Homo sapiens: one gene and its partners. The protein of the gene in region 1 interacts with the protein of each later gene in a pairwise test. Each region holds a gene or a part of one and is shown in the gene's direction. Other genes may lie near its edges.

Region 1 (7,386 bases):
TTTCTGTTTTTCTTATTTGGTCTTTGTTTCTGTTTACCTTTTTTTCTGTCTACTTTTGTCTTAAGTGGGTCTTTTTTATAATTACATTTTATCTCCACTGTTGTCTTATTGTATATTTGTAAAAATTTAACAGAGTTTTTGGTTGTTACCCTAAAGTTTAGTGGAACTTTAAAGATATCATACTGTTTTATGTCAATATACTTGGAACATTATACTCCCAATTTCATCCTCCCGTCTTTTGCATTATTGTTGTCATACATGTTGCAGAATATTGACATATGCTGTAAACCCACAAAACTTTGCTACTATTTTTGCTTTAGATAATCTTTCACAGTGATTAAAAGCAAGAAAAAGTATCTATTGTGTTGATCCTCATTTTAACGATTCTCGAGATTTTCATTTATTTGTGTAGATTCAGGTTTTTGTCTGATATCATATTTCTTCTATTTAAATAACTTCATTAAACATTTCTTCTAGTGCAGGTCTACTGATAATGAATTCGCTATGTTTTTGTTGTTTGAAAAAGGTTTTTTACTTCATTATCATTTTTGAAAGATATTTTTGCTGGGTATAGAATTCTGAGTTAATAGTTTTTTGCTTTAGTTGCTTTTTTGTTGTTGTGAAAGCACTTTCAGGATGTCACTACTTTGTTTTCTGGCTTAGTTTCTGATGAGAAGGTGGCTATGATTCATTATCTTGATTTTTCTACATATAATATGTCTTTTTTCCTCTGGCTACTTTGAAGATTTTAACTTTGGTTTTCATTTGTTTGGATACGATGTGTCCATGTGTGTTTTTGTTTGAGTTTAGTTTTTGGTATTTTCCCTGTTTGGATAAATTGAGTTTCTTGGACCTGTGGTTTCATATTATTATTTTTGGAAAATTCTTGTCCATTATGTCTTCAAATACTTCTTTTCTCCTTTTGGAATTTCAGTTACATGTTTATTAGACCATTTGATATTGTCTCACAGCCCTTGGATGCTCTATCCTTTTATGTTTTTCTTCCATTTCTCTTTGAGTTTCAGTTTGACCTATCTTCAAGTTTACTGAAACTTTTCTTAGCTCCTTTGTCTACTAATGAACCTGCTGAAAGATCAACTCTGTTACTGTACTTTTCTTAGCATTTCCATTTGATTTTTTCTTGCAGTTTCCATCTCTGCTGAAATTCCCTATTTGTTTATTCATGTTGTCCACCTTTTCTAGTAAAGCCTTTAGTATATGAATCATAGTTGTGTTAAATGCCCTGTCTGATAATTTCAGCAGTTGAGGGTTCTGTTGATTGTTTTGCCTCTTTTGATAGTGGATTATCTTAGTCTTGCCTTTATGGGTGTCTGATAATGTTAGATTGAAGATAGGTGCTGTTAGTATGATCTTTTCTGCCCCTTCTGAAGAGGCAAAGGGACTTTCCCAGGAGGTGGTATTTTCCCAGGTGGTCTCTAGGGGTTTCTAAACAAGTCATTCTAGGAGTTGTAAGGCAGGTCAGACCTTTAATAACAATGCCTTCCTTTTTCCTCTATTCCAGTTCTGCCTTCATAGTTCTCTGCCTTTGCCCAAAACTGCAGAAAATGAACAAATCCCAGGTGAGTTGTTTGTTTATTCCCCATTTTGCTTTTCAGTGCATTTAAGGAAGTTTATAAGGATCCAGAAAATGAAATAGAAAAGTATGAATAAGACACAAAGGAAACATAGCAAGAATAACTAATCAATACCAGCAGCCAAAAAGCAAATTGAGTTAATTAAATGTCTTGCATTGGTTATGAATACCAATTATTTGGTTCTGTACATTAGGTCTGAATAAATTTTATGGACCTTCATATAGATGGTGTTTTGGACAGCACCCCCAGAAACAACCAACTTTGAAAGGGTTATCACTTTATCTGTGGTTGTTTCATATAACATTCCTCAGTGCAAGTGCAGAAGATTATTGTATGTATTTGGTTTTTCCAGTCAGATTAGCCTAATGCCAGAGAATGCAGTAAATATGTGGGTTTGTATTTAAATCCCTCCACCCCAAGCAGGTACCACTGTCATTACTTTCTTGTGTAGCTTTCCAGAGCTTATTTGTACATAATTACACAAGTACAAATAAAAGCACAAACGTAAGATAGCATGTTAATCATACTGTTCTGTTTATATGCGTTCTGTTTTAATAGATTTCATTTTTTTTAGAGCAGTTTTGGGTTTACAGAAAAATTGAATGGGGAATGCAGTGTGTTCCCATATACCCCCTCATTCCCAACCCCTACCCCCAGTTTCCTTTATTATTAATATATGCATTAATGTATATTGTTACAGTTGATGAGCCAATATTGATACTTTAAAGACCATAGTTTACAGTAGGGATCACTCTCTGTGTACATTCTGTGTATTTTGACCAATATATAATGACATGTATCCATCACTATGGCATCATACAGAATAGGTTCACTGCCCTGAAAATCCCGTGCTCCGCCTATGCACCTCTCCCTCTGTCTCCCTAAGTCCCTAACACCCACTGATCTTTCTACTGTCTCATCTCCCTAGTCGTGTCTTTTCTAGAATGTCATATAGTTGGATTCATGCAGTAGGTAGCCTTTTTAGATTGGTTTCCTTCACTTAGAAATATGCATTTAAGGTTTCTCCAAGTTCAAGACAATGCTGGCCAACACGGTGAAACCCCGTCTCTAGTAAAAAAAAAAGTACAAAAAATTAGCCAGGCGTGGTGGCGGGCGCCTGTAGTCCCAGCTACTCGGGAGGCTGAGGCAGGAGAATGGCGTGAAGCCAGGAGGCGGAGCTTGCAGTGAGCTGAGATCGCGCCACTGAACTCCAGCCTGGGCAACAGAGCGAGACTTTGTCTCAAAAAAAAAAAAAGAGAAGGTTCCTCCAAGTCTTTTCTTGGCTTGATAACTCATTTCTTCTTAGTACTGAATATGTCATGATGTGATGTACCACGGTTTATTTATCCATTCACATATTGAAGGAACAGATAAACTTAGTGGCTTCTAAGTTTTGGCAATTATAAATAAAGCTGTTATAAACATCTGTGTGCAGGTTTTTTGGGGGCATGTTTTCAACTCATTTGGATAAATACCAAGGCCCCTGGATCATACACTAAGAATATAATTAATTTTGTAAGAAACTGCCAAACTCCCTTCAATGTGGCTGTACCATTTTACATTCCCACATTCTCACCAGCAATGAATGAGAGTTTTTTTTTTTTTTTTTTTTTGGTTTTAAGGAGCGGAAAGTTTAATAGGCAAGAAAGAAAAGAGAAGGCAGAAGGAAGAGGCTCCCCTGACAGAGACAGAGGGAGGGGGGCTCCAAAGCCGAGAGAGGGAACCTCCTGAATGAGAGTTTCTACGGCCCTGCATCCTCACCAGCATTTTGTGTTGTCAGTGTTCTGGATTTTAGCCATTTTATTTATTTATGTTTTTAATTTTTATTTTTTTTGAGATGGAGTCTTGCTCTGTCACACAGGCTGGAATGTAGTGGCGTGATCTTGGCTCAGTGCAACCTCCCCTTCCCAGGTTCAAGTGATTCTCCTGCCTCAGCCTCCCGAGTAGCTGGGATTACAGGTGCGCACCACCATAGCCCAGCTAATTTTTGTATTTTTAGTAGAGATGGGGTTTCACCATGTTGGTCAGGCTGGTCTCGAACTCCTGGGCTCAAGTGATCCACCCACCTTGGCCTCCCAAAATGCTGATTACAAGCGTAAGTCACTGTGCCTGGTTATGGTTTGTGTTTCAATCTCTTAATTATGTGATTTGATTTTGTTTTGTTTTTGAGACAGGGTCTCGCTCTGTCACCTAAGTGGGAGTGCAGTGATGTGAACACGGTTTACTGCAGCCTCGACTTGCTGGACTCAAGCAGTCCTCCTGCCTAAATCCCCGCAAGTAGCTGGGACTACAGGCACATGCCGCCATGCTTACCTAATTTTTTGTATTTTTTTGTAGAGATGGAGTTTTGCCCTGTCGCTCAGGCTCATCTTGAACTCCTGAGCTCAAGCAATCCATGTCCACCTCAGTCTCCTAAAGTGCTGGCATTACAGGTGTGAGCCACCGTGCTCAGCCCAATTATGTGTTTTTTAAATCATTCAGTAACATATCTTTGAAGTATTTCCATATCAGAGCATAGAGGTTGCTCATTCTTTTTTTTCCTAATCTTTAATTGTGTGACACATGTACAGAATAGTGTATTAAGACATAACACTCTTTAAATGTGTTATAACAACATATATAACAAATATATATGCATTAAAGAATAATAATAAAATGGGTGCCCATGTAGGCACCCAAGTTAAGAAATAGAACATTATCTGTTCTTTATGACAAATTTTCTGATTGAATCCACCTAGTAGATAGCCACTATCTTGACATTTTTCTTAATAGTTCCCTTGCTTTCCTTAAAGACTTTACCACTTAGATATATTCTTAATGTAATATTCAGTTGATAAACTATAACTGGGATTAATATCACTTATAGTCTTAATATAAAATTTAGTTAACAAACTATAACTGGAATTAATATTGCCTTGGTTTGCATAATCTTTTGTCTAATTGGTGGAGGTTTTTTTTTCCTTTCAGACATGTGAGATCTAAAAGATGCATCCGTGGGCCCTTTGCCAAGACTTAGGTTATCATTTATTTTTTAAATTACACTAGCTAGTGTTAGCTAAGAAGAAATGAAACCACTCATGTATTGCTGGAGATAGTATAGAATGATACAGCCTTACTGGGAGCAATGTGGCAACACCAAGCAAATTTAGCAGTGTAAAGCAGCTGTGTCTAGAAATTTGGCTACTGTTGGGGCCAGGTGTGGTGGGTCACGCCGGTAATCCTAGCACTTTGGGAGGCCGAGGTTGGTGGATCACTTGAGGTCAGGAGATCGAGACCAGCCTGGCCAACATGGCGAAACCCTGTCTTTACTAAAAATACAAAAAAAATTAGCCGGGCGTGGTAGCATGCGCCTGTAATCCCAGCTACTTCGGAGGCTAAGGCAGGAGAATCGCTTGAACCCAGGAGGTGGAGGCTGCAGTGAGCCGAGATCATGCTACTGCACTCCAGCCTGGGCAACAGAGTAAGACTCTGTCTCAGAAAAAGAAAAGAAAAGAAAAGAAATTTTGCTACTGTTGGACAAAGCCTCCCAGGAAAAGATGAGCTGAATTGAATTTCCAGGTATAGCCTGGCTTTGACTTTCCTGAGAGTTTACAGAAGTCCCGTTTGGGGAGGTTATTGGCAAGGTCATGAGAAGCATGGGGCTCAACATAGTTGGGCCGTGTGACAGGGTCAGAGTGTAGACTAGGTATTGAATTTTTGGTACGAATATAATTAGAGGGAGTGGGATGCTATGCATTTTCTGCATCTTGGTTCACTGGTGAATAGCCACCACTCAGGAGTAGATTAAAGCAGAACACTTCTGTGACATGAAATGACTGTTCTCATCTGATCCAAGGCAGTCTGGTATGGAGGGGAAAGACAGATGTCATCAGAACATGTTCAAGATAAGCCAAACCAAGTACAGTTAAGAATCTGGGCCAGGCTCACCCAGGCATTCTGCCCTCAGGTTAATAAAAAGTTGGTACAGTGGCCGCAGGTATCTTGTTGATGACAACCCTCAGAATGCCAGCTTTTGAATCACTGTGTTCCAGTCCGTAACTACAAGTAATGTGGTGTTAGTAGAGAATCAGTGCTATTTCACCATCTCCCACCGCTGTCTCCTTCCCACTCCTAGGGATTTCCTTCCTCTCTCTCATGTTGATCTTTTGTTTGCAGCGTCTCTTTTTTGGATTACTGTTGTTTTATTGAAGTACATGCTTCAGCAGCTTCTTGAGAAAGGGTTTGTGAGAGGTATGTTTTTTAGGCTGAATTTCTGAAAATGTCTTTTTTTTTTTTTTTTTTTTGAGACAGTCTCACTCTGTCTCCCAGGCTGGGGTGCAGTGGTGTGATCTTGGCTCACTGCAATCTCTACCACAGGGTTCAAGCAATTCTCCCGCCTCAGCCTCCTAAGTAGCTGTGATTACAGGTGTGTGCCACTACACACGGTGAATTTTTGTATTTTTAGTAGAGACGGGATTTCACCCTGTTGGCCAGGCTGGTCTTGAACTCCTGGCCTCAAGTGATACGCCCTCCTCAGCCTCCCAAAATGCTAGGATTACAGGTGAGAGCCACTGCACCTGGCCTTCATTCTGTTCTGGTATTTGATTGATAGCTAGGTATGAATGTGGATTTGTCCATTCCTCAGTTTAGTTCTGTCAGGCTTGATATAATTTGAAGCTGTGTTAGTCATTGCATATATGGTTATGGATGTGTGCACACATATGATTCTGTCTTCCTGATGGACTTATCCTTTTATCATTTTGAAATGCCCCTCTTTATCCCTGATAATACTGCTTTTCTGATAAAAATAAAGCCATACCTACCTCTTCTGGGTTGGTTGGTTGGTTTGTTTTGAGACCGGATCTGGCTCTGTTACCCAGGCTGGAGTGCAGTGGCTTGATCTTCACTCACTGCAGTCTTTGCCTCCTGAGTTCAAGTGATCCTCCCAGTATTTGGAACTACAGGCGTGTACCACCATGCTCAGGCAATTTTTGTAGTTTTGTTTTTGGTAGAGATGGGATCTCGCCAGGTTGCCCAGGCTGGTCTCAAACCCCTAGGCTTACGAGATCTGTCTACCTCAGCCTCCCAAAGTTCTGGGATTACAAATGTGAACCACCATGCCTGGCCCATACCTCCTTTTTTTTATGATTAGTGTTATGGTATATATTTTATTTTTGCTTCAACCTATTTATGTTCATATGTTTATAGTATATTTCCCCTAAATAGCTTGTAGTTTGGTCGTGGTTTTGATCCAGCCTGTTTCTTTTTTCTTTTTTTGAGACAGGGTCTTCCTCTGTTGCCCAGGGTGGAATTTAGTGGCATGAACACAGCTCACTGCAGCCTCAAGTTCCTTGATCCAGCCTATTTCTGTCTATTTTTTTTTTTTTTTAATTTTTTTTATTTTTTGAGACAGGATCTCTCTTTCTCACCCAGGCTGCAGTGCTGGAGTGAAGTGGTGTGATCTTGGCTCATTGCAGCCTCAAGCAGTTCTCCCACGTCAGCCTCCTGAGTAGCTGGGACTACAGGCCTGTGACAGTTAATTTTAATTTTAATTTTTTTTATTTTTTTTGTCGTGATGAGATCTTGCCTCCCAAAGGGCTGGGATTATAGGCGTGAGCCACCATGCCTGGCCTATTTCTGTCTTTTAATTGGTTTATTATTTTATTTGTGATTTTTTTTTTTTTTTTACAGGCATAGGTGAATTTCAGTGTGTCATTTTGCTATTTATTTTTAGTTGTCCTGTGTGTTCCTATTTTCCCTTTTATCTTTTTTTTAAGTGGTTGCTGTAGAGATTACAGCTTATAATCTTAAC
Region 2 (7,386 bases), on another chromosome or scaffold:
GGCTGAGGTGGGAGAGCTTGAGCTATGATTGCAGCACTGCACTCCAGCCTGGGCAACAGAGCAAGACCCTGTCTCTTAAAAATAAAAACAAAAAAACAAGACAGAGTTTTTTTTTTTTTTAAGAAGTAGAATTATTGATGATTTTACTGAGCAGTGACTGTTATCTGTAGATGATTACCTACATATGTGATGGAGGGGAAAGGAAAGGATTTGTGATAACAAAAATCAGCCTACTTTTGGATTCTGAATAAATAGTGGTGCTGTTTTTGACAAAGGAATTGAAGGAGAAGGCGGGTGCTTAGTACGTAGTTAGGCATTTGGCTTGGGCATGGTGAGTTTGAGGTGCTTAAGATGGAAATACGGGTATGATTCTTAGGAGAGAGATCATACCAGGAGATGTCAGTATGGCAGTTAATGGCATATATATCAAATCTGAATCTATTGGAATAAGTACAATCATCAAGGGACACCGTGTAATGTGAGAAGAGCAGATGAAAGAGATTAGAACGCTAAGGGTCACCAACATTTAAAAGTCATTTGAGGAAAAAGGAGCTAGGGAAGGAGACTGAATTCCATCTCTTCTGCAGAATGAGTGCTGGGAGTGGTGTGGGAAAAAGGCGTGGATGATTCACATGGCTGTCACTCCACCTGGAAGTTAATCTTCTTTTGGTCCCACTTAGAATATAGTATGGGTGTTATCTTGACATTGCTGGTTACATTTTTGTCTTGTCTTCAATGAGAAGTGTTTATTTGCCACTGACCATAACAGTACTTTTGAGAAAATTCTAGCAGTACCATGAAATGTCTTTCCTTGGTGGCTTTGCATTTGGAAACAAACCCAGAAGCAGTGCACCACGGGCCAGGAGTGTACACTCATCACCCTGAGGACTGATCATTTGTTTTTATTTTAGAAGATAAATCCTGGCCGGGCGCGGTGGCTCGTGCCTGTAATCACAACACTTTGGGAGGCCGAGGGGGGCGGATCATCTGAGGTCAGGAGTTCAAGACCAGCCTGGCCAACATGGTGAAACCCCGTCTCTACTAAAAATACAAAAATTAGCTGGGCATGGTGGTGGGCACCTGTAATCCTAGCTACTCGGGAGGCTGAGGCAAGAGGTTGCAGTGAGCTGAGATTGCACCATTGCACTCCAGTCTGGGCGACAAGAGCAAGACTCCATCTCAAAAAAAAAAAAAGATAAATCCTGGCTGGGCATAGTGGCACATTCCTGTAGTCCTAGCTACTTGGGAGGCTGAGGCGGGAGGATCCCCTGAGCCCCAGAGTTTGAGGTTGCAGTGAGCTGTGATTATACATCACACTCCAGCCTGGGTGACAGAGTGAGACTCTGTCTCAAAAAGAAAAAATCCCTTTGAGGCAGTGTGAGTGTTACAGCATTTGATACTTGAATATTTTTGTATGTCCAAAATTTAATTTAATTAATTAACTTATTTATTTTTGAGATGGCGTGTTGCACTGTTGCCTGGGCTGGAGTGCAGTGGCACGATCTCAGCTTGCTGCAGCCTACGCCTCGCAGGTTCAAGCGATTTTCCTGCCTCAGCCTCCCGAGTAGCTGGGATTATAGGCGCCCGCCACCACGCCCAGCAAATTTTTTGTATTTTTAATAGAGACAGAGTTTCACCATGTTGGCCAGGCTGGTCTAGCACTCCTGACCTCGTGATTTGCCCACCTCGGCCTCCCAAAGTGCTGGGATTACAGGCGTGAGCCACTGTGCCTGGCCTATGTTTTTTAATTAAAAAAAATTATTATACATCTCAGCAGCAGAAGGAAACTTTAGGAATATTTTTAATGTCAAACTCTTTCCTATTCTCCTGAGGGATAGAAACTTACTTATGGAATTTTGAGGATTTTATTTATTTATTTACTTATTTTTGAGACAGAGTCTCACACTGTTGCCCAGGCTGGAGTGCAGTGGCACGATCTTGGCTCACTGCAACCTCCACCTCTCGGGTTCAAGCGATTCTAGTGCCTCAGCCTCCCTAGTAGCTAGAACTACAGGAGCGTGCCACTATGCCCAGCTACTTTTTGTATTTTTAGTAGAGACGGGGTTTCATCATGTTGGCCAAGCTAGTCTTGAACTCCCAACCCCAGGTGACCCACCAGCCTCAGCCTGCCAAAGTGCTGAGATTATAGGCATGAGCCACAGTACCCGGCCATGTCTCTGTTTTTCTTTTGGTGAAGGAGAAGGTCATATGGTCTCAAAAAACTTGAGTAACTACAGGGCACATTTAGATGGAAAAGAGTTCTGGCAGTGTTCTTCAGGGCTGTGGAAGGACATAGAAGTTGGTCATTTTCATATCATATGCCTCTATGTAACTTTTTTTTTTGGCGGGGGGGACGGAGTCTCGCTCTTTTGCCCAGGCTGGAGTGCAGTGGCGTGATCTCGGCTCACTGCAACCTCCATGTCCCGGATTCAAGTGATTCTCCTGCCTCAGCCTCCCTAGTAGCTGGGAATACAGGCACCTGCCACCACACCCAACTAATTTTTGTATTTTTAGTAGAGACAGGGTTTCACCATGTTGGCCAGGATGGTCTTGATCTCCTGACCTCGTGATCCACCTGCCTCCGCCTCCCAAAGTGCTGGGATTACAGGCGTGAGCTACCGCACCCAGCCTGACATTTTCTTTTTATTGTTCTGTTGAATAATTTGTAATCTGATATATGATACTCTTTTAGGAAAACATAGATGCATCATTTGGCTTTTCAAGCCTTATGCCCAGCCTGGGCAACATAGTGAGACCTCATCTCTACCAAAAAAAAAAAAAAAAAAATAGCTGGGCATGGTGGCGTGCACGTGTGGTCACAGCTACTTGGGAGGCTGAGATGGGAGGATTGCTTGAACCTGGAAGTTCAAGGCTGCAGTGAGTTATGATCCTACCACTGTGCTCCAGCATGAGTGACAGAACAAGACCCAGTCTCAAAAAAAAAAAAAAAAACACCCTATCCCCTGTTGCACCTCTCAGGGCAATATTTTGTACTGGCTCCTATTGAAGTTCATAATGATTCTGTAGGAGAGATGGAAAGAAGTCCCTGGGCTTTCTGCTTTGCCTAAAATTGGTTGATTTCCTTGTATAGAGTAGATAGATTTTTCATCTCTGGCAAAATGTTGCCACTGTATATCCCTTTTCCTCTTGGATTTGATCTTAGAGTCACGTCTAAAATAGTTTCTACTTTAACTTTTTGGGAATTTGACTGTGGCATCACTTAAGAACTTATTTGCAAGAACGCTAGAGACCCACCCAGACATGAGTTGTGTTGATTACTTTATATGTGACCATTTTCATTGTTCTAGTTCTCTTATTCTTGATTGTAGGTGAAATCGCCATGCTTGGTGGTGTGGGAGAAGAGAATGAGAAACTGTGGAGCTTTACCAAAAAGGCCTCGCACATTCAGTTGGACAGGTAAAAGAGTTTGTGCCTTTTTGACTTACTTTTAAGCATTTAAACTATGTCTGCTTTTTTCCTCCCTCTGTTCAAGATTCTCATTAAGGGAGATAGAGAATATATATTTCAAGGTTTTCAGACCATGCGTGGTGGTTTACACCTGTAATCCCAGCACGTTGGGAGGCCAAGGCGGGTGGATTGCTTGAGGCCAGGAGTTTGAGACCAGCCTGGCCAACATGTTGAAACCCTGTCTCTACTAAAAATATAAAAATTAGACGGGCATGGACCTGTAATCCAGCTACTTGGGGAGGCTGAGACAGGAGAATTGCTTGAACCCAGGAGGCAGATGTTGCAGTGAGCCAAGTTTGTACCACTACACTCCAGCCTGGGCAACAGCAAGACTCCATCTCAAAATAAGTATAAAATAAAATAAAAAATTATCCGGGCATGGTGGCGTGCGCCTGTAAGTCCCAGCTACTCGAGAGGCTGAGGCAAGAGAGTCGCTTGAATCGGGGAGGTGGAGGTTGCAGTGAGCTGAGATCGCACCACAGCACTCCAGCCTAGGGGACAGAGTGAGACTCTGTCTGAAAAAAAAAAAAAAAAGCGTTTCACTGCCCATTACCACTGTTACTAATGAAATAGTTGTGATTATAATCCTTGGTATAGTATTACTACACATTTTTTCAATCCAATATATAAAAGAATTGTTAAATTTTAGAAATTATCAATGTATTGTTGAAATGGAGTCATATTCCAGTAAACCAGATCTTTTGGCTTAAACTGGACAGTTATGATCCTACCAATTTTCTGTCTTACTTATATTTATTTGAAAAGAGAATCTTTGTGTAACATCTTGCAAATCCCCTACTGCCATGAGAATTAATTACTGGGGGCTTCAGGATCTTTCAAGCATGTGACTGCTCTAAAATATTTCTTGTATTTTTTAACTCTCAGTTAGAGGTCTCATAACACATGAGCTTTGTTTCCTCAGCTTACCAGAAGTACCTTTACTGGTTGATGTGCCTTGTTTATCTGCTCAGTTGGATGACTCAATTCTTAACATAGTGAAAGACCACATTTTTAAGCATGGAACAGTAGCATCTCGCCCACCAGTACAGATAGAAGAACTAATAGAGAAACCTGGAGGCATCATTGTACGATGGTGTAAGGTATGTAATTCAGAATTCTAGAAATGACTTCCACATTATGGGTTTGCGATTTGGAGGCCTTTCAGATTTTTTCGTTGACTACTTTTAAATACATTCTTTTCTTCTCAAACAAAAATCTCTTTTACTTTACAGTTAAAATGAAGTCACATGGAACACTGAGGTAGCTCTTCCAGTTTTATTTTTATTTTATTTATTTATTTTTTGAGACAGAGTTTTGCTCTTTCACCGAGGCTGGAGTGAAGTGGCGTGATCTCGGCTTACTGCAACCTCCATGCCCTCCCCCGCCTGCCGCTTCCCCCGGGTTCAAGCCATTCTCCTGCTTCGGCCTCCTGAGTAGCTGGGATTATAGGCACCTGCCATCACACCTGCCTAATTTTTGTATTTTTTGTAGAGACGAGGTTTCACCATGTTGGCCAGGCTGTTCTTGAACTCCTGACCTCAGGTGACCCACTCGCCTCGGCCACCCAAAGTGCTGGGATTATAGGTGTGAGCCGCCGTGCCTGGCCTTTTTTTTTTAAATGAAGCCTTGCTGTGTCGCCCAGGCTGGAGTGCAGCGATGCAACCTCCGACCTCAGGTGATCTGCCCACCTTGGCCTCCCAAAGTGCTGGGATTACAGGTGTGAGCCACTCCGCCTGGCTGACATTTTCTTTTTTTTTTTTTTTGAGACAGAGTTTCGTTGTTGTTGTTCAGGCTGGAATACAATGGCACGATCTTGGCTCACCACAACCTCCGTCTCCCGGGTTCAAGCAATCCTCCTGCCTCAGCCTCCCAAGTAGCTGGGATTAAGGCATGCGCCACCACACCTGGCTAAGTTTGTATTTTTAGTATTTTTGTATTTTTAGTAGAGACAGAGTTTCTCCATGTTGGTCAGGTTGGTCTCAAACTCCCGACCTCAGGTGATCTGCCCACCTCGGCCTCCCAAAGTGCTGGGATTACAGGTGTGAGCCACTGTGCCCAGCTGAGATTTTATTAAAAGGAAATTTTTTTTTCTTTTTTTATAAACATGCTGTTGTTATTTTCTAACAGGACTGTCATTCCATTTTTATTATTTTTCCTATCAGTGGACCTAGTTATTTCCAGTTTTTTGCTATAAGTATTTTTACTTGTGTTTCTTTATGGACATATGTGAAGTTTGTAAAATATTAATATTTACCTAGGTGTAAAATTATGAGGTCTTCTTAGAGTATTGGATCCATACGCTGATAGGTAATAACAAACTTTCCACAAGATGATTCTATCAATTTAGCCTTCCAAGGAGTATATGAGTTTCTGTTATTCCATATCTTGACCAATAATTGGCATTGTGAGACTTTATATTTTTGCCTAAATGTACCTTGTTGTGGTTTTATTTATTTGTTTGTTTTTGAGACAGGGTCTCACTCTGTCACCCAGGCTGGAGTACAGTGGCACAATCATGTCTCCAGTCTCAATCTCCTGGGCTCAAGTGATCCTCCCGCCTCAGCCCCCAAGTAATTGGGACTTCAGGCATGTGCTTCCACAGCCAGCTAAGTTTTGTAATTTTTTGTAGAGATGGGGTTTTGCTGTGTTGCCTAGGCTGGCCTCAAATTCCTGGGCTCAAGTGCTCCACCCGCTTCGGCCTCTCAAAGTGTTAGGATTATAGGCATGAGCCATCATGTCTGGCCTTGTTGTGGTTTTAGATCGTATTTGCCATATTACAAATTAGGTACAAATTAGGTTGAATATTCATAATATACATTTTTGGCTATTTATGTTTCTTCTCCTGTAGAACGCTTATTTATGTCTTTTACCCATTTTTCTATTGGGTGGCTAATTAACATACAGAATATATGCAGGACCCCTAAAAATTAATGGGGGTTCTGTATACTGTATGTTAATTATCTCTTGGTTATTATGAATGATGTATGGTTGTGGGAGACTTACTGAATCTTGAATGTTTTATCTTTGGCATTGATTAAAAAACATGCCATTTCTTCAAAGGAGGCAGACTTTTTTATATCAGACTGGGAAATACAGAACACATGGTTCAATAAAGAAAAGAAGGGAGCCCAGGCGCAGTGTCTCACGCCTATAGTCCTAGCACTTTGAGAGGCTGAGACGAGAAGATTGCTTGAGCTCAGGAGTTAAAGATCTGAGATATGGTGAAGCCCAGTCTCTACAAAAAATACAAAAAATTAGCCGGACATGGTGGTGTGCACCTGAAATCCCAGCTACTTGTGGGGTGGAAGGAAGAGGATGGCTTGAACCCGGGGTGTGGAGGCTGCAATAAGCCGAGATCACGCCACTGCACTACAGCCTGGGTGACAAAGTGAGACCCTTTCTCAAAAAAAAAAGAAGGGAGATAATGATGTGATGGCATATTTTCTATGGCCTTCCCAAGAATACCCCATATTCAGCATGTGGGCCTGTCTGCTTGGTCCAAAATGGCTCCGTTCAAAATTTTTAAGCAGTGATGCTGAGAGAAGTCATTTTCTGTTTTTTACCTAACATAAAGCTTTTCTCCCTAGGTGGATGATGACTTTACAGCCCAAGATTACAGGCTCCAGTTTCGTAAATGTACTTCAAATCATTTTGAGGATGTATATGTAGGTTCTGAAACTGAATTCATAGTATTGCACATAGACCCCAACGTTGATTACCAGTTCAGAGTCTGCGCCCGAGGAGATGGCCGACAGGAGTGGAGTCCTTGGAGTGTCCCCCAGATAGGTCATTCCACATTGGTGCCTCATGGTATGCTGCTAACCTTTTCTCTCCTGAAGCCTAACTATATATTAGAATACCTGTATTCTGTGCTAAGGGCAGCACACTGACAACCAGCTATTCTAAGCATAGATCCTG
Region 3 (7,522 bases), on another chromosome or scaffold:
CAAGTCCTGCTTCAAGCAATTCTCCTGCTTCAGCCTCCCGAGTAGCTGGGATTACAGGCACCTGCCACCAGGCCCAGCTAATTTTTGTATTTTTAGTAGAGACGGGGTTTCACCATGTTGGCCAGGCTGGTCTCGAACTCCTGACCTTGTGATCAACCTGCCTCAGCCTCCCAAAGTGCTGAGATTACAGCCGTGAGCCGCCGTGCCCAGCTTTAATTTCTAATATAATAAATTTGATAGATATGACTCACTTAAAAGCTATTTGGCATCCTCAATGACTTTTTTAGAGTGTAACGGAGTCCTGAGACCAAAAAGTTTGAGAACTGCTTGATTTGAAAAAACAAGCCTAAAGTCTACCTTTTGCTCCCTGAGGGAAGGCAAGTTGCCCAACTTTTCCAAGACTTTTTCTGGCCCCATAGCATGGGATGATGACTTAAAACTACCTGCTAGGGTTATTGTGAAGACTAAATGGGAAGACGTCTGTGTAAAACTCTTAATTCAGTGCATGGCGTATGACTGTTCAGTAAATATTAACCATCTATTATTATTATTGCTTCTGCTATTACTGTTACCACTACTATGAGGGCTATTACTCCCTGCTGGTGATGTCTTTACTCAGATACATGAAGAACTTATTCTTTGAACTTGCTAAATGCTCTCAGGCCATTGCACTTGTTTCCTTTGCCTGGAATATCTTTCCCTCCTTTTTGTCCAGCAAATCCTCTTCATTTCTTCTTGTATTAACTTCGAGCTTCTTTGATTTAGAAGCCTTCATTGACCTCTCAAAACTATGCTAGGTACCCTGCTGTAAGCCCCAATCTTTGCCCCTTTAAGAGCATACCATAGTGTAATTGCTCGTGTCTTTGCTGGCTCTTCCATTGCACTCCGAAAACTCTGTGAGAGAGGGGACCATGCTTGTTCACTGCTATAATCATAAAGCTCTGCACAGTGCCTGGCAGTCAGTAAATGCCTGTTGAATACATTTTGTAAAAGTCTTCAATATGTCTTCTTGCCACACCGCTCCTTTCATGTCCCAGGGTGCCTAAATAAGCTCGATATCCTGCATATTCCTGTAAATCTCTTTGATCCTCAAGTTAGATGTAAACACTAAACTCAAACAATGATCTGGGCTTCATTTATGATTTTAAGGCAATGGTTAAATGACTTAAAGGATGTTTGATTATATACCTTAATTTCCCAGGGATTCAGAGTTGTACAGGAGGTAAAGCCTTGGTCTTTGCATAAAAGTTGGGTAATTCTTAGCTATGATCCAGGCATAGACTATTCACAAGTTAAGATGGAAAACTAAGACGGCTAGAGAAAATGCCCCTGGGTGCCAGCTTGTGCCATAACTCTTACCACTATAAGAGGAGGGGAGGATAAAGACTGCTTTCTTCCTTTTAAGTTGCCATTCCTTCTGCCATTCGTAGAATTTATGTCTGCACTTTTCTCATCCACTGATAGCTAGTGGCAGTTTCAGAATATCTATTTGAAGAGGGGCTTAGAAGAAACAGTCCCATTGAATAGGGGGATAGGAAAGTTTTTCCTTAAGCTATATTTATATTTTTCAACTTAGATTGCATGTTTATTTTGGAGAATGTTCTTGGATATAAGAGGGTGCTAAGGACTTCCAAGCCACCTCACTGCTAAGAGTACATCTATTTTTAGTGTGGAAACATTTGAAGTAAAGGAATAGGCAGGTTTGATAAGAGAAGTTTGACTAGGTCTCTTTTGTTATTGCTTTTCACACGGGTAAACCTAAACTCTGCCTGGTGAGCATTAACCAATTCAAAAAAGATTTGAAAGTTCAAAAAAGCAGTCGGTGTTGAGAATACATACTAGACCATATTTATTAGGTCTGGGGCCTAAAAAGATCAGTATAATCAATAGGAAACAGGCAGCTTGACAAAAGAAAAACCAAACTTGAGGCAATCAGTTTATCATACAATCATTATATATTTATTTCAGCTATGGACAATACATATGCAGATACCACACAATATAAGATGTGACCTCAAAGGGCTTGCAACCTATTTGGGAAGACAAGAAAATGTCTACTAGATTATCATTTAAGCATGTTTCTGAAACTAATCTTTAGTGTTCATTGTTCCTGCTGGTTATTCTCTTGGCCTAATTATGTGAGGAAAACAGAATGAAGGCAAAGGGATGGGAAGCAAGGGCAATGTGGCTAAAAATATTGATGCTCTTAAGCCATGTGTTCCAAATTTAAAGCAATACATTCATGGTTTTAAAGCTGGAACCTGCAACTAACTTCTAATTAGTCCCTCTTATTTTACAGAGGAGGAAACTGTGGCCTATCCTGCAAAGCACTCTAGCTGATAACTGGTAGCTCTAAGACCAGAAGTCAGGTTCTCTGACTCTCAGTCTAGGGTCCTTTCCAAAACAAACAAGTGCCTCTGAAGGTAAGGTAAAATGACTGGAGTCTTCCTATGCCTGGGGTCTATGCTAAAGAGCCTTAGTTTTTCCTTGAATGGATAGGATGGAATTATTTGAATTATTTTATTAGACCTGCATTATACATTTTTTTAGCATGGCAATTTTCATCAATTCTAATTTCTCAGTTACCAAAATAAAATTTATTAATGCTAAAATCTCCAGTCCTTATCAAAGGGCAAATTAATCAGACTAATAAATTGTTTTTTAACCTCTACTCATTCATCCCTCAACTTTCATATCTTTAACCTATTGAATGACTTACAAATTTTCTATTTCACTCTTGACCTCTTTCCTGAATTTCAGTTTCATATTTCAGTTGCTGCATCTCTACCTGTTTTTACTCCTATGACCTCAAACTCAACATGAAGCCAGCTTCCCTTTCACGTATTCCTATTTTTGTCAATGACACCATCATTCTTCCAGTCATCCAGGTCTGAGATCTTGGCATCATCTCTCTTCTTCTTCTCTTCTAAATCTTGTGGGTTACCAATTTCTGTGGCCTCTTGCTGAAACGTTTAATATTTCTCTCAATTCCATTTCTTCTTTTTTTTTTTTTTTTTTTTTTTTTTTTTTTTTTGAGACAGAGTCTCACTTTCATCCAGGCTGGAGTGCAGTGGCGCGACTGTGGTTCACTTTAGCCTCGACTTCCCCAGCTCAAGCGATTCTCCCACCTCAGCCTCCCGAGTAGCTGGGACTATAGATGTATGCCACCACATCAGGCTAATTTTCTGATTTTTTTGGAGATGAGGTCTCACTGTGTTACCCAGCCAGGTCTCAAGCAATCCTCTCAGCTTGGCCTCCCAAAGTGCTGGGATTACAGGTACCATGCCCAGCCCATTTCTTCTTTTTAATTCCATTTCCTACATCCTAACTCAGGTCCTCATGATCCCACAACCGGGTGGTGACAATATCTACTACTCATCCTGGTTCCATCCTAGCAACCCAACCTACAACTACTGTGGACTACTCTCTCAAAATTACCATTTAAACAGAATCACAAACCCCCATTTCACCCCTTTGATTCTAATTTTTCACAGCTCCCAGTGTCCATGGATAATAAAATTCAAATTCAAAATCCTGAATAATGTTGCCCATGCCCTTGCAACCTCCTCTCACTTTTCCTTCACAGAACCATCCTCCCCAATCAGAAATTTCTTTTCTTCCCAACGCCCACCTCCACCTTTGGCTTAGGCCTGTAACGGACTCTGGCTCCTCTTCTGAATTCTGCTCTGTTAAAATTAGCAACTAGAGCAGCAGACCACGGCCCCTCCTCAAAATTCCAGAGGTACCTACTGATCTTTCTAGAGAGGCAGCCTTCAGACCTATGTTCCCAGAAATCTCTACGTTTGTGCCTTTCCCAACTAGAGAATTAACTCTTGCGGGGCACAAAACAGCCTCTATTTCTTTGCGTCCCCAGCGCCTGTTTGTTGAAGACTGAGTTGAAGGAGTAGCAGGTGGTGTTAATTTGTCAAAAAGATGAGTTAAGGTGCTGGGGGCGAGGGGGAACACCCCCACGGCCCTCCCCCCACAGCAAGGCAGGTGTGTCTGGGGGCCTCGGCGGGTGCCGGGGCGCGGGGCGGATGGTGCCCCCCGGGCGCAGGCCAGGGAGGCCCGAGCGCCTTCCCCACGCCCCGCTCGCCCGCGCGTGTGAGGGGAGGGCGGCCCAGCCGTTTCGCGCCGGGAGGTAGGTGGTGCTGTTGCCGTGACTGTCTTCCTCATTGGCGCCGTGCAGAGAGGCGGAATGTTCAACTCCTAACTGCAGCGGAAACGTGGGAGCCGCGCGGGCCGCTGTCGTCCCAACCCCCGCCGCCCTCGTCGCGCGCGGGGCCTCCGCGCCCCCGGCTGCTGCTCACGCCCCGCCCGGGAGCCAGGTAGGGGTCAGGCTGGAGCCCGCGGAGGGCGGGGAGGGAGGGGGCGAGGCCCGCCGCGCTCGCGAGTCGTCCCTGCGTCTCGGGGCCGAGGCTCCGCCGGAGCCCGGGAGTCTAGGCGGCCTCGGGAGGCTCCTCGGGGCTCCCCTCCCCGACCCAGGGCCCGCCCGGCGGCGGCGGCCGGAGCGAGCGGGCGGGCGAGCGAGCGAGCGTTCGCGGCGCCCGGGAAGTCCTCGCGGGACCTTGGCCGCGGCGCCGCCAAGTGCGGTTCGGGAGAGTTCGGGCCGGTCCCATGGAGAAGTTGGCGCCTGGAGGCGCGGGCGCAGGCCGGAGCGGCCCCGGCTTTCGCGGTCCCGGGCGTGCGGCACGGGCAGGGGCTCCGCGAGCAGCAGAGCCGGCCAAGCAGCGGGTGACTGGGGCACTGTCGGGAGGCGAACCGCGAGGCCCCCAAATCAGGGTAGGGTGCAGGCCACTTCCCAGCACTCGCTGTGCGTGCGAGGAGGGACGACGAACTTCTGCTTTTCTAAGAACTCGACCGCGAGCGGTGTTGCTTCCCATCCATTTTCCTTCATTCTGTTTTCCTCACACAATTAGGCCATGCGAATAACCAGCAGGAACAATGAACACTAAAGATTAGTTTTAAAAACATGCGTAAATGTATCCAGAGCCACCGCTCCCCGCCCTTCCTGCCCCGGGCTTGGGCAGCATGAAGCGCCCGCCCTCTCGGGCTTCCCCCTTTCCTCCCACCGGAGCCGGGGATGTCTCCTTTGGCGACCCTCAGGCAGCGGCTTTTTGTGGGCTCCCAGACCTGCACCAGGCCCAGAAGTGCTTACCCAGGCCGTCGCCTCGTCTGGCCTCGCTTGCCCATGACAGCTTTCAGAAAACTTTAATTCAGGACTGGCTAGATGACATCCGATTGCCTAAAAAATTTTTTTAAAAAGTTATCTCTGTTAGATCGCTGAAAATGTTATGTTTCTGATGCGCTTTGAGATCGCGCATAAGTACTGTTTATGGGGAACTTAATTACTATTTTTGTTAGTTTCTGTAATAATGAAAGCAACACAATTTAGGGGCCCATTCCAAGTATGGTACAGTAAGCAGCTCTCGATACTGGTGTGTGAGAATCGTCTTACAGAGTGAATTTGAGGATGTTTGACTTAAGATTGTTGAAAACTGTACTCCTTCTTTAACCCCGAAGCTGTTTTGGAAGAGCCTTCTTGCTTCCTCGACCTTCGTTGAAATGAACAGCTAGGATTTAGTGGATCCAAACCTCCAAACACGTTTAAAGACAAAAATAAACAAGTGATTCAAGGCTAGTTAATGTCCTCTTTGTAGTAGGCCTATCTCCACAGTGAAATTTCACTTGTTTTTCAATTTTCCAAAAAAAAAAAAAAAAAAAAGTGATGGCTGCATTTTAATTATGGTTATGGTCATTTGTAGAGTCTTTGTTTTAAATTCCTGCTACTATAGTGAGAGATTTAGGAGATTGTAAATGAATACGAATTTAGTTTGGGAAAACAGAATTAAGATAAAGAAAAATGGTCTTTTGGACCACTGCACTGTTTATTTTAATCTATCACAATTTAATTCCTACTATAACTTTTTGAGATTATTTGGGGAGTTTTTTAACTACAAAATATTGTTTAAATAAAAAAATTTAGTGATAATAATTCCAGAGTAAATGACCATGATGCAATTGCAAGGACTTTCTCCGTTGTCTAAAAAAGCAAATAGATGATTGATCCGTTTTTCTTAATCTTTTAGGGAATATATAAGGACACAGTAAAGAGAGAAAAAAAAATCCAAATATTAAACACTCGGACTTGGATCTAAAAATGGATGGTCAAAGATCTTGGGAACTAAGGGGCCTTCTTGCCAAATAAGGAAACTTGGCAAGTTGCACTGTGTATTTTAACTTAGCACAAGAGTGAGTGTTATTGGCAATATATTGGCTCAGAGCCTATCTGGAATGAGCAGTGAAACTGACTTTGATAGGGCTACAAAATTATAAATAGGTTTGTGGGGGCGTGGAGTGAATAATCGAATCATCAGAGAAAACACTGAAAACTTTTCATGAAAATAAGTCAGATGTAAGGTGAAGCTATTAGTGTGGAGTGACAGAGCAAAATGGACAGTTTATTTTAGAAAGTGGTAGATTCAGAAGAGAGGAGAGAATCAGTGGTTTTTTTGTTTTTGTTTTGTTTTTGTTTTTGTTTAAACTGGAAAAAGATGTTTGTGGGGATATAATACTTCTTGGAATAAGATAGCCCTATGTCTGTATCCTGAGATGTTGGAAATAAAAATGAATTTAGATCACTTGTTTTCCATTTTATTCTACCCAGGACAGATTGACAGGGTGAGTATCTTGTCTATCTAAATGTAGTAGGAACAGTTAAGGCACCTTTTGGTCTTACTGCAAGGAAGATTTAGGCTAGTTTTTTGGTAGCTATTAACTTTGCCCCACTAGACACAAATAAGCAGAGTTCCAGCTGTGACCAGAAAATTGTACCTGGTAAGGGAAGAGGACTATGAATGCTAGAGCTTAGATTGATTCGACTGATACATGGGTGCTTTTATGTCAGACCCTCCTACGGATGCTGAAGCATCGTCCTAATAGCTGTTAAGTAATCCCAGCACAGTAGAAGAATCTGTGAGAACAAAGCAGCCCCACATTTGACACCCTAACCCCAGTGTCTTCAATTGTAATAGGAAATTAAAGCCTCAAATTGAACTTTAGGTGGATGGTGAGCAATCCAGTAATTACTGTAATAAGAAAATAGTTTAAATAGGGTAAACAAAAGGCAAATTAGAAGGAGGAGGCAGAATGTTATTAACAAAAAGACATGATATGGTAGAAAACAATGATATGACTTTGGAGTCAGGCCTGAATTTGACACAAGTTGTGTCACCTGTAAGGTAGTTGGCTTGAGCTACTTTCATACCCCTGATCCTCAGTTTTCTCACTCATGTAAGTTAGGAACAGTAGTACCTGCTTCCTAAGGATAAGTACAGTCATGTGTCCATTAATGATGGGGATACGTTCTGAGAGAACTGTGTTGTTACGTGATGTTGTAGTTGTGTAAATACCACAGCGTGCACCTACACAAACCTAGATGCTATAGCCTACTACACACCTAGGCTGTGTGAGATAGTCCGTTGCTCCTAGGCTACAGACCTATGTAGCATGCTGCTATACT

What was found.
Region 2: the proteins of ZFP1 (region 1) and CRLF3 interact in binary tests that used the Homo sapiens proteins (3 or more experiments, as listed by UniProt).
Region 3: the proteins of ZFP1 (region 1) and MAP3K20 interact in binary tests that used the Homo sapiens proteins (3 or more experiments, as listed by UniProt).

Annotation. Positions count from the first base shown.
Region 1 is NC_000016.10:75,151,387-75,158,772, forward strand, and holds part of ZFP1 (zinc finger protein 1 homolog), read left to right. Parts: intron 1-1,522; coding exon of another isoform or gene 1,523-1,565; coding exon 1,566-1,580; intron 1,581-5,750; exon of another isoform or gene 5,751-5,825; intron 5,826-7,386. UniProt on the Homo sapiens protein: May be involved in transcriptional regulation.
Region 2 is NC_000017.11:30,793,342-30,800,727, reverse strand, and holds part of CRLF3 (cytokine receptor-like factor 3), read left to right. Parts: intron 1-3,329; coding exon 3,330-3,417; intron 3,418-4,390; coding exon 4,391-4,568; intron 4,569-7,055; coding exon 7,056-7,278; intron 7,279-7,386. UniProt on the Homo sapiens protein: May play a role in the negative regulation of cell cycle progression.
Region 3 is NC_000002.12:173,071,675-173,079,196, forward strand, and holds the start of MAP3K20 (mitogen-activated protein kinase kinase kinase 20), read left to right. Parts: upstream 1-4,171; 5' UTR 4,172-4,328; intron 4,329-4,396; exon of another isoform or gene 4,397-4,782; intron 4,783-7,522. UniProt on the Homo sapiens protein: Stress-activated component of a protein kinase signal transduction cascade that promotes programmed cell death in response to various stress, such as ribosomal stress, osmotic shock and ionizing radiation.